Regions from separate parts of the Homo sapiens genome. Here region 2 is linked to region 1. The links come from fine-mapping of genetic effects on gene expression. A gene starts in region 1. The other region holds a variant in brackets. All regions are shown on one strand. Distances are between the middles of the regions. Region 1 holds the start of SUCLG1 (succinate-CoA ligase GDP/ADP-forming subunit alpha). Region 2 has its middle 61 kb from the start of SUCLG1.

Region 1 (5,242 bases):
CTAGTATCACTTCTGATACTCACTGGAAACTTTTGGGATTTCCTCATCTGCCGTACAAAGGTATGGGACCAGTTGGGTTTTAAGGTTTACTTTCTGGCATTAAAATACCAAAATTCTGAGGTTCAAAAATACTGGCTTTTATTCCCTATTTATTCTAAAAGATTCAAGTTACAGAAACTACTGACCAGTTTTAAAAAGACCTTGCATTACTTTATGCTTCTCTTAAAACTTCACTATTTCAACTTCAAGGGTGCTTATGAAATCCTTAAACTTTCTCATGGAAGAACTCTTCCTCATTTTTCATTGTATTTTCTCTCTCCACTTCAACTGGATCCTTTTCCTTTTTTCTCTTTTTCTGAGACAGAGTCTCACTCTGTTGCCCAGGCTGGAGTACAGTGGCACGATCTCAGCTCACTGCAAGCTCCACCTCCCGGGTTCAAGCAATTCTCCTGCCTTAGCCTCCTGAGTAGCTGGGATTACAGGCGCCTGCCACCACACCTGGCTAATTTTTGTATTTTTAGTAGAGACGGGGTTTCACCATCTTGGCCAGGCTGGTCTTGAACTCCTGACCTTGTGATCTACCCGCCTCAGCCTCCCAAAGTGCTGGGATTACAGGCATGAGCCACCGTGCCAGGCCACTTTTCCTTTTTTCATAAGCTATAAAACAGGGCTCCGGAAGGCATCTACCAGTGTTCACTTGAGTTTTTTCTGTGGCTGTTAACTCTAATCAATATTGCAACACTATGACCTTCAGCAAGTAATGTACCATAAGTTGAAACTTAACAGAGGGAACAAAATTCCCTAACATCTGTAGCTCTATTAGCTTCACAGACTAAATAATTTCTGGTCCCTTTTTAAAAAAAAAGTTTGCAAGGTGATGTTGTAGCTGCTATTTTTCTAGTGGGAGTGAAAATGGGCTCGGAAATGTGGCATGGGAAAGAGGAGTTAGAGTTTTGTGAATTTAGAGGTGTTTACACATTAAGCATTGTTGTCTGTAACCCCTCTTAATATAGAATACATCTTGGTTTAAATCTCAGACCCGTAATAACAAGTTAATCACATGACTTGAATAATTCAAGCCCACTCCAGTAACAAAACTAAACCAGATGGTCACTCTAGGGCCAAATGATCCTGGGAGTCTAGGAAGAACACACTTCCAGTTCTGTGGGAAGAGGATTGAGAGGACTGCTAAGGGTGGAGTAAGGAACTAGATCTTTTAGACACTCTTCCTTTATTCTCTAGATTTTTCTAGACAGCAGACCTACCTGAGGCTAGGATCTTTCAGAACCTCAGACTAGCAAGACCACAGAAGCGAAAGACACAGGTGGGCAACTTCTTCCTAGGGTTTCCCACCACAGTGGCTGTGCTGCACATCTGATCTTCTACATTCTAACCCACTATCTATTCAAATTAAGCTGGTTTAAAACCATATCCAATATACTTCATTCTTGGTGCTCAAACTTTATTGACCTGAGTGATTACTGGGTATAATGAATTCTTTTTGTCCTTCTGCCTACAACACTCTCAAGAATCTCCAGAAAGCTTTACCAAACAAACCATTTCATACTTGCTAACGTTATCTAGCCAGACCTTTGTCCTCAAGTGATTGGCAACTAAGTGTTAGCTATTGAGTGCACACTCATCAATGTACACTTTCAGAATGTAATCTTCTCAAGAAAGGAATTAAGTCTCATAAAATATTCAGTACAAGCAGAATTAAGAGCAAAGCGGAAAAAGAAAACTAACTTTGAGTGTTTGTTACATACGAGATGCTTTATATAAATTGCTCCACTTATTCTGCAGTGAACCCAGATCATCCTGTACATCATCATTGCTAAAATGCACATTTTTTTTCACTTTTTAAAAAACCAGGATACATGTGACAACCACTGGTGTGTCACAGTTTTAATAAGCAATCGTTCTTCATTGTTAGTGGTAAACAAAATAATGGTCCACCTTACAAGTGATGGTGCTTCAGGCCCCTTAAAATGTGTTAATATTTTCATGTGATTGGAAACACTGAAAAACAGATTAAGTGTCCAGGGTTATTACACAGACTGAAAAGGGACTAGCCAGACTTCAAACCCTGATGTGGCTGATTCCAAAGTTTCTTTCTACTATAACCTACCTGACAAGCACAGAGACTTTGAATATGGCAAGAATTTTCCATAGTCAGCGTGTCTCAAAGACTAGCAACCTTGGGTACTAAGTTTTCGGGAACGGATGTGTCCACAAATCGCCTGGTGGAGACACTGCAAATAAGCTGGTTTAGGTCCCAGCCAACCATAAGCTTCTAGTAGTCTATGCGGCTATGCCGACCCCACTCCGTGTGCAGAAACCATCTTTCCCTGACATACAATCCTGCAGAGGGGGAATTCGAAGTGCAGGACCTTTCCGTACTAGGGACAGCCTCATCCCCCAACTTCCTACTGAGACACTCTTCCTCTACCTCTCAACCCAGACCCTTACCTTCCCCACCAAGTTCACCTTGGACCTCTTCATCCCCAACTCCAAATAAGGCCAGTCTAGACGCCACCCCCATCCTGTCATTTGTCACCGCGGGGCCGAGAGCAAGCTCCCAAATTTGCAGGGCTCCCGGACCCGAATCCTGGCTCAGCCACCCAATATCTCCATCTGCCAGCGGCCTAAGTCATGCCCCCCGCCCCACGTATCCAGCAAAGCTCCTTCCACCGTAGGGGTCCCCGACTCGAAGCCGGAATCCCAAGCGGCTCCCAGGCCCCCGCCGAGGTCCAGCCCTGAGGGCCCAGCCGCGGCCTGGGCCAGGAGGTTGGGTCCGGCGGGGCCAATAACCCGCGGGCGCCAGGAAGACAGTACTGGCTGGACTCACGGAGGAAGCTGCGCGACAGGAGACGGGCGGCGGCGAGGCCGCTGCTGCCGGAGACCATGGTAGCGATGTCAGCGGCAGCGGCAAGGGTTGCGGTCATACGCCAATGACACTCCCAGGCCCCCGGGGACCTCCCAGGGGCAGAGGCCGGAGGAGGCAGAGGGTGGCCACAGCAGTCGCCTGAACAAATTTCCCTTTACAGAGGATTCTTCACGAAACAGCGGGAATGGCAGGTGAAGACAAAGAGGCATCCTATCGGAGAGGCAGATAATAACTCGGCTCCTTCCTAGAAATGTGGGTTTGATTAACATTAATTATAACAGCAGCTGAGGGAAAACCCCACGCGAGACTGGCCAGCGCGTGGCATTGTGGGCAATGTAGTCTGACGGCCGCGACTGGTTCGTAGCTTTTGAGTGAGGCGGCGGGAAGGGAGCGAGGGAAGAGCGGCAGTGAGACCGGGGAGACAAGGGACTTGAAGACTAGGAGGGAAGAAACAGCGAGGTGAGGTGCGAAGAGCAGTGCCAGAACTTTGTATCCCAGGCCCATCTCCTTCCCCCTTCGTTTTCCTCGTTTGCTATTAGAGAGAATAATATTTCTCACCGCGTACCTGTGCCTGGACCCGGAAGGGTTGCCGCTGGGGACGGGAATTCGAACTGGCACTGGTGGCCTGTGAAGGGAAAGATGTGATGAGAAAGACCAAAACCTATCTTACTGACAGTTAACTTCTTGGAATGTGAATTTTTTTAGTTAAATAATCATGCAGTCTTTGACTAGCACTAAGTGCATGAGTGTTTATTCCCTGAGGATCCTAAGGGCTGAAATTCGAGGTCAAATGTGACTTTGCTCCCTGATTGGACAAACAGTTCCCTCTTCTGTAACAGCTTTAGAAGGAACCTCAGAGAGTCCCAGAGTCAAAAGGTAAACAAGAGATGAAGTAATCTGCGTCTCTGCCGAAAATCGTGCTCCTGAGATTCCTCATCAGAATTGTCAATAAAATTGCAATCCTAATTTACTTAGGTAGTCATTATAATTGGCACTGAGCTGTGGGATGGATGAGTGGGATTACCCCAGGAGATTGCCCAATACTTCCTTTATGATCCAAATATTGTCATTAACAGGTTGGACTTCACTGCAAATAAACTCCTCCCTCATGGATCATGTTCTTGTGATAACTAAATTCCTCAGAGTTAAATAGTATCAGTGGTTTCCAGATATATCCATTATAACAAAATGGACATTTTTATGGCAAATAAATAGAAAATCCCTTGCTATTTTAAATAGCAAAATTATTCCTGAGCTGTCGCTTGATAAGTTATATGTTTAGTTTCATTTAATTGATAAAATGCATGATGACAAAAAATATAATTTCAGTACACTTTTAATGAAAATTTGTATTTCCATGAAGACGGGGATTTTTGTTTGTTTTGTATCCTGGAGTATCCCCAGCACCTAGAACAATGCCTTACACAAATAACTCATCGTTGAATTGAATTGATATATATAGGAGAAATAGTAGTATATAGATTATTTTTTGGATCCACAGGCAATGTTTGATGGACTTAGGATATTTCAACCTCTTGTAATAACTGCACCCCTGTGGCAGACCAGGTCTCACTAACGCAGGCCTCCATAACAATGTTTCAGTGCTGACTGAGTGGTTAAGTTAAATATTAAAAGCCAGTGCCCTTATACAAAGGCTGAGATGTAACAGAAACCCACCAAGGGTTTTGCCTAGGCCTTTCCTGGGCCTTGAAGCATGACAAATTAATGAAGAAATTCTTAACAGGACCCATTTAGGATTAAACAAGTTTTATTGGAGGTCCGAAGAAACTCCCCAGGCCTCCACAAACAAGTTTATTGGAGGTCTGAAAGAACTCTCCAAACCTCTGTGATTTAGCAGGGGATAAGATAAGGGTAATCACCCCAGCACCTAAACCCATGTAGATTAAGTAAATTTATTGAGGCTTCAGAGGATGGTCTTCAGTACTCAGACCTTAGTTATAGATTAAAAGAAGTTAATCACTTATGTCTTTAGATAAATGCACACTTACAAGTAAACATATAGCTTAGAAGGTATATAAGCTCTGGAAAACTGTAATTTTAAGTTGGTCTGATGATAATTTCCAGGCCTTCTCCCTGTAATCGGTTGCAGAAATAAAAACTCTCTTCCTCCCCAGTTCATCTACATCTCATTATTGGGCCACAAAAAATAGCAGCCCAACCCTCAGTTTGGTCCGGGAACACCCCTACCTCAATTCTGTAGCTCATAGGTAGGGGACAACCACACTAGTCAATACCACACCACTCATCTTTGTATGCAGATTGAGTTTGGAAATCAGACAGGTCTGGGTTCAAATTCCAACTCTGCCACTGGCTACATGACCTCTGGGTTTCAGG
Region 2 (5,242 bases), 60 kb before region 1:
AGCTTGTCTCCTAATGACTCTTCTCCACCTCCTTCCTGGCAGCTATGAGACCTGGTAGTATCTTGCTCTAGCACTGCTGTATGACTGTTAAAGGTCTAAAGCACTGGTTCTCACACGTTGGCATGCAGCAGAATTAATATCCCCTGGAGAGTTTGTTAAAACATAGATGACTGCGGCCCTAGAGTTTCTGAGTCACTGAGTCTGGGGTGAGGCCCAAGAATGTACATCTTTAACAAGTTTCTGGGTAATCCCTATTGCTGCTGCCTTGGGAACCACGCTTTGGGAATCACTGGCCTAAAGCACTATTTTTAACTATTGAGAGACATTGGGCTAATAAACTGATAAGCTTTTGGATGTTAAAGGATTCCATCCTATGTCATTTTTGTATCATTGGAAAGAAGAACAATCTCTCCTAGAAAGAAAAAGAAAAACTAAAGGATACTCATAAGATTGTGTATAGACTGAGAGTGAAGACACATGGTTTTTTTAGCTTTTCTATTTTTAAGAAGGAAAAAAAATTAAAATTAGTGAGTACACCAGAAGGAAATTTCAAGACTTCCTCCTAATTGGCAGGTGCAACTCTCCTGGGTCCTTGGCTGCTGGAGAAAGATTGGACTAATGAGCATCACCTGGTGGCCATGTGGCATTGACTCCACTGAAGGGGAATGAACATGGCCCTTGGTATTTGAGCCTTTCTACATATGTCCACGTGTATGACCTTGTTCATGTAATTAGTACATTATTATTGCTAGTTTGTCACACCCTTATTTTAAAAGAAAACATTATATAGTTCAATATAAGTAATCAGAATATATGCTGCACTTAGTCCTTCATTGATCAAACAATATTTACTGGAATTTTGTTATACACTCAACACTCTAGTAAGGACCAAGTGGGCACCAACCAAGTATAAAACATGGTCCTTGTCCATATAAAACTCACAGCACAGCTGGGAAGGCAAGTCACTCTCATTAAAACAGAAAAAAAGCACACAAGAATCATAAGTCATGTTATCTATTATGTACAAAACAAATCCTTTTTTCTTATAGTTATACTATATTATTGTTTTCCTCATTTATTCAACAAATATGAATAGGGGCAAGTACTGCGCTGGACTCTGGGAATAGAAATAGAGACACGCTCCTTGCCTTTAAGAAGTTCACAGTCTAGAAAAGAAAGCATATACCAAACAAACAGGAGGATACAGCCAATCTGCCTGGACTCAGAGGGCACTGAAAAGTTTCATGGAGAAGGTGACCCTGAACTGAGGTTGGAAAGGTGAGTGGGAAATTGTTCAATGTACAAGCTGTACACTGTAGAGGACTTAGCATTCTACCGAGGAATGGCACATGCAGATGCAGAGAGGCCTCACCAGAAGGGCAGATTCCAGAATGGCCAGTGAAGTTGTGTAGCCAGAACAGGGTGTATTTGAGGGAGCTGCAGTAGAAGCAGTCACCCATCAGCAGGATGGGCTTCATGCCACAGGAAGGCAATTAGACCTTCATCTAAAACAAAATGAGAAGCCATTGAAGAGTGGTAAGCAAATGACGTACTGTTGGGAGTATTCTGGGAGACAGAAGAGGGTGGAGTGAAGAAAGGTAAGATACTGCAATCATTGTGGTGTAGGATGATGAGGGCCTAAACTCAGACAAAAGAAGGCAGATCACAGAGTTTATTAAGAATACAGACTCATTGAAGCTTCTATAAACATAGCTCACAAGGAACAGGGAGAAGTGTAGGACAGCAACGTTAAAAGAAAAACATTAACATAACAATGTGGAATAAATAAAATACACTATTTCTCTAAAATGAAATGCTACAATACCAAGACAGGAATGATGAAGAAAGGAAAGGATAATTAGAAATGAGAAGAGTAAAAATGTTTTAAGATTAATAAATTTATGGGATGCCAATAATCAGTATAAATCAACCTGGGAAAGCATTAGTCAGAAACCATGCTATAACAGTTGAGCACTGCAATGAATTTGGAAATTGTTCTTGTCCTATCCATATCTCTAACTTCACCTATGATACAAAAAGATGCCTTTCATCTTCAAAAGAAAATCGTTTCCTTTCCATTCAGTTTTTTTAAATGACCATCAACAAGTCATTGGCACAGACTTTGGAAAACGTCTACTTACAGATTCTAAAATCTAATTTAGGCATAGACATCTATTCATAGATCTCTCTTCAGAACTTGAATATTAGATTGCTGGGAAGATGGCTGAATAGGAACATAACCAGTCTTCAGCTCCCAGCAAGACTGACACAGAAGGCAGGTGATTTCTGCATTTCCAACTGAAGTACCCAGTTCATCTCATTGGGACTGGTTGGACAGTTGGTGCAGCCCAAGGAAAAATGAAAGAACAAATGTTAAGGGCAGCCAGAGAGAAAGGTTGGGTTACCCAGAAAGGGAAGCCCATCAGACTAATGTTGGATATCTCAGCAGAAACCCTACAAGCCAGAAGTGAGTGGGGGCAATATTCAACATACTTAAGGAAAATAATTTTCAACCCAGAATTTCATATCCAGCCAAACTAAGCTTCATAGGCAAAAAAGAAATAAAATCCTTTTCAGACAAGCAAATGCTGAGAGATTTTGTCACCACTAGGCTTGCCTTACAAGAGCTCCTGAAAGAAGCACCTAAACATGGAAAGAAACAACCGGCACCAGCCACTGCAAAAACAAACCAAATTGTAATGACCATCGACACTATGAAGAAACCACATCAACTTATGGGCAAAGTAACCAGCTAACATCATAATGGCAGGATCAAATTCACACATAACAATACTAACCTTAA[A/G]TGTAAACTGGCTAAATGCCCCAATTAAAAGACACAGACTGGCAAACTGGATAAAGAGTCAAGACCCATCAGTGTGCTGTATTCAGAAGACCCATCTCACATGCAAAGACACACATAGGCTCAAAATAAAGGGATGGTGTAGTATTTACCAAGCAAATGGAAAGCAGAAGAAAGCAGGAGTTGCAATCCTAGTCACTGATAAAACAGACATTAAACCAATAAAGATCAAAAGAGACAAAGAAGGCCATTACATAATGGTGAAAAGATCAATGCAACAAGAATAGCTAACTATCCTAAATATATACACACACGATACAGGAACACCCAGATTCATAAAGCAAATTCTTAGAGACCTACAAAGAGACTTAGACTCCCACACAATAATAGTGGGAGACTTTAACACCCCACTGTCAATATTAGACAGACAACGAGACAGAAGGTTAACAAGGATATCCAGGACTTGAACTCAGCTCTGGACTAAGTGGACCTCATAGACATCTACAGAACTCTCCACCCCAAATCAACAGAATATACATTCTTCTCAGCACCACATCATACTTATTCTAAAATTGACGACATAATTGGAAGTAAAACACTCCTTAGCAAATGCAAAAGAACAGAAATCATAACAAACAGTCTCTCAGACCACAGTGCAATCGAATTAGAACTCAAGATTAAGAAACTCACTCAAAACCACACAACTACATGGAAACTGAAAAACCTGCTCCTGAATGACTACTGGGTAAATAACAAAATGAAGGAAGAAATAAAGATGTTCTTTGAAACCAATGAGAACAAAGATACAACGTACCAGAATCTCTGGGACACATTTAAAGCAGTGTGTAGAAGGAAATTTATAGCACTAAATGTCCACAAGAGAAAGCAGGAAAGATCCAAAATTGACACCCTAACATCACAATTAAAAGAGCTAGAGAAGCAAGAGCTAATGAATTCAAAAGCCAGCAGAAGGCAAGAAATAACTAAGATCAGAGCAGAACTGAAGGAGATACAGACACTAAAAACCCCACAAAACATCAATGAATCCAGGAGCTGGTTTTTTGAAAAGATCAACAAAATACTTAGACTGCTAGCCAGACTAATAAAGAAGAAAACAGAGAAGAATCAAATTGATGCAATTAAAAAATAATAAAGGGAATATCACCGATCCCACAGAAATATAAACTACCATCAGAGAATACTATAAACACTTCTATGCAAATAAACTAGAAAATCTAGAAGAAATGGAAAAGTCCTGGACACATACACCCTCCCAAGACTAAACCAAGAAGAAGTTGAATTGCTGAATAGACAAATAACAAGTTCTGAAATTGAGGCAGTAATTAATAGCCTACCAACAAAAAAAAGTCCAGGACCAGATGGATTCACAGCCAAATTCTACCAGAGGTACAAAGAGGAGTTGGCACCATTACTTCTGAAACTATTCCAAACTTAGAAAAAGAGGGAATCCTCCCTCACTCATTTCATGAGGATACCATCATCCTAATGCCAAAACGTGGCAGAGACAAACAAAAAAAAGAAAATTTCAGCCCAACATCCCTGATGAACATTGATGCAAAAATCCTCAACAAAATACTGACAAACTGAATCCAGCAGCACATCAAAAAGCTTATCCACCATGATCAAGTCAGTTTCATCCTAGGGATACAAGGCTGGTTCAACATACACAAATCAATAAACATAATCCATCACATAAACAGAACCAACGACAAAAACCACAATTATCTCAATAGATGCAGAAAAGGCCTTCAATAAAATTCAATACCTCTTCATGCTAAAAACTCTCAATAAACTAGGTATTGATGGAACATATCTCAAAATAATAAGAGCTATTTATAACAAACCCACAGCCAATATCATAGTGAATGGGCAAAAACTGGAAGCATTCCCTTTGAAAACTGGCACAAGACAAGGATGCCCTCTCTCACCCCTGCTATTCAACATAGTATTGGAAGTTCTGGCCAGGGCAATGAGGCAAGAGAAAGAAATAAAGGGTAGTCAATTAGGAAAAGAGGAAGTCAAATTGTCTCTGTTTGCAGATGACATGATTGTATATTTAGAAAACCCCATCGTCAGGCAGGGCGTGGTGGCTCATGCCTGTAATCCCAGCACTTTGGGAGGCCGAGGCGGGCGGATCACGAGGCCAAGAGATCAAGACCATCCTGGCTAACACGGTGAAACCCCATCTCTACTAAAAATACAAAAAATTAGCCGGGTGTGGTGGCGGGCGCCTATGGTCCCAGCCGCTCGGGAGGCTGAGGCAGAAGGGCATGAACCTGGGAGGCGGAGCTTGCAGTGAGCGGAGATCATGCTACCGCACTCCATCCAGCCTGGGTGACAGAGTGAGACTGTCTCAGAAAAAAAAAAAAAGAAAAAGAAAACCCCATCGCCTCAGAAGCAACTTCAGCAAAGTCTCAAGAT

Evidence for each region. PIP is the estimated chance that this variant, and not a neighbour inherited with it, causes the effect.
Region 2: its variant is fine-mapped to the expression of SUCLG1 in whole blood (TOPMed, PIP 0.97).

What each region holds. Positions count from the first base shown.
Region 1 is chr2:84,456,325-84,461,566 of GRCh38, forward strand. SUCLG1 (succinate-CoA ligase GDP/ADP-forming subunit alpha) reads right to left here and starts at 2,956. Exons shown (of 9, transcript NM_003849.4): 1 at 2,849-2,956. The coding sequence starts at 2,945. It also overlaps a transcript of DNAH6 not described here. RefSeq lists an enhancer at 2,993-3,132 and a silencer at 3,313-3,502.
Region 2 is chr2:84,395,935-84,401,176 of GRCh38, forward strand. No RefSeq gene overlaps it. Among named protein-coding and RNA genes, the nearest start is that of SUCLG1, 61 kb to the right of the region's middle. The variant A/G (reference allele first, on the strand shown) is at 2,804.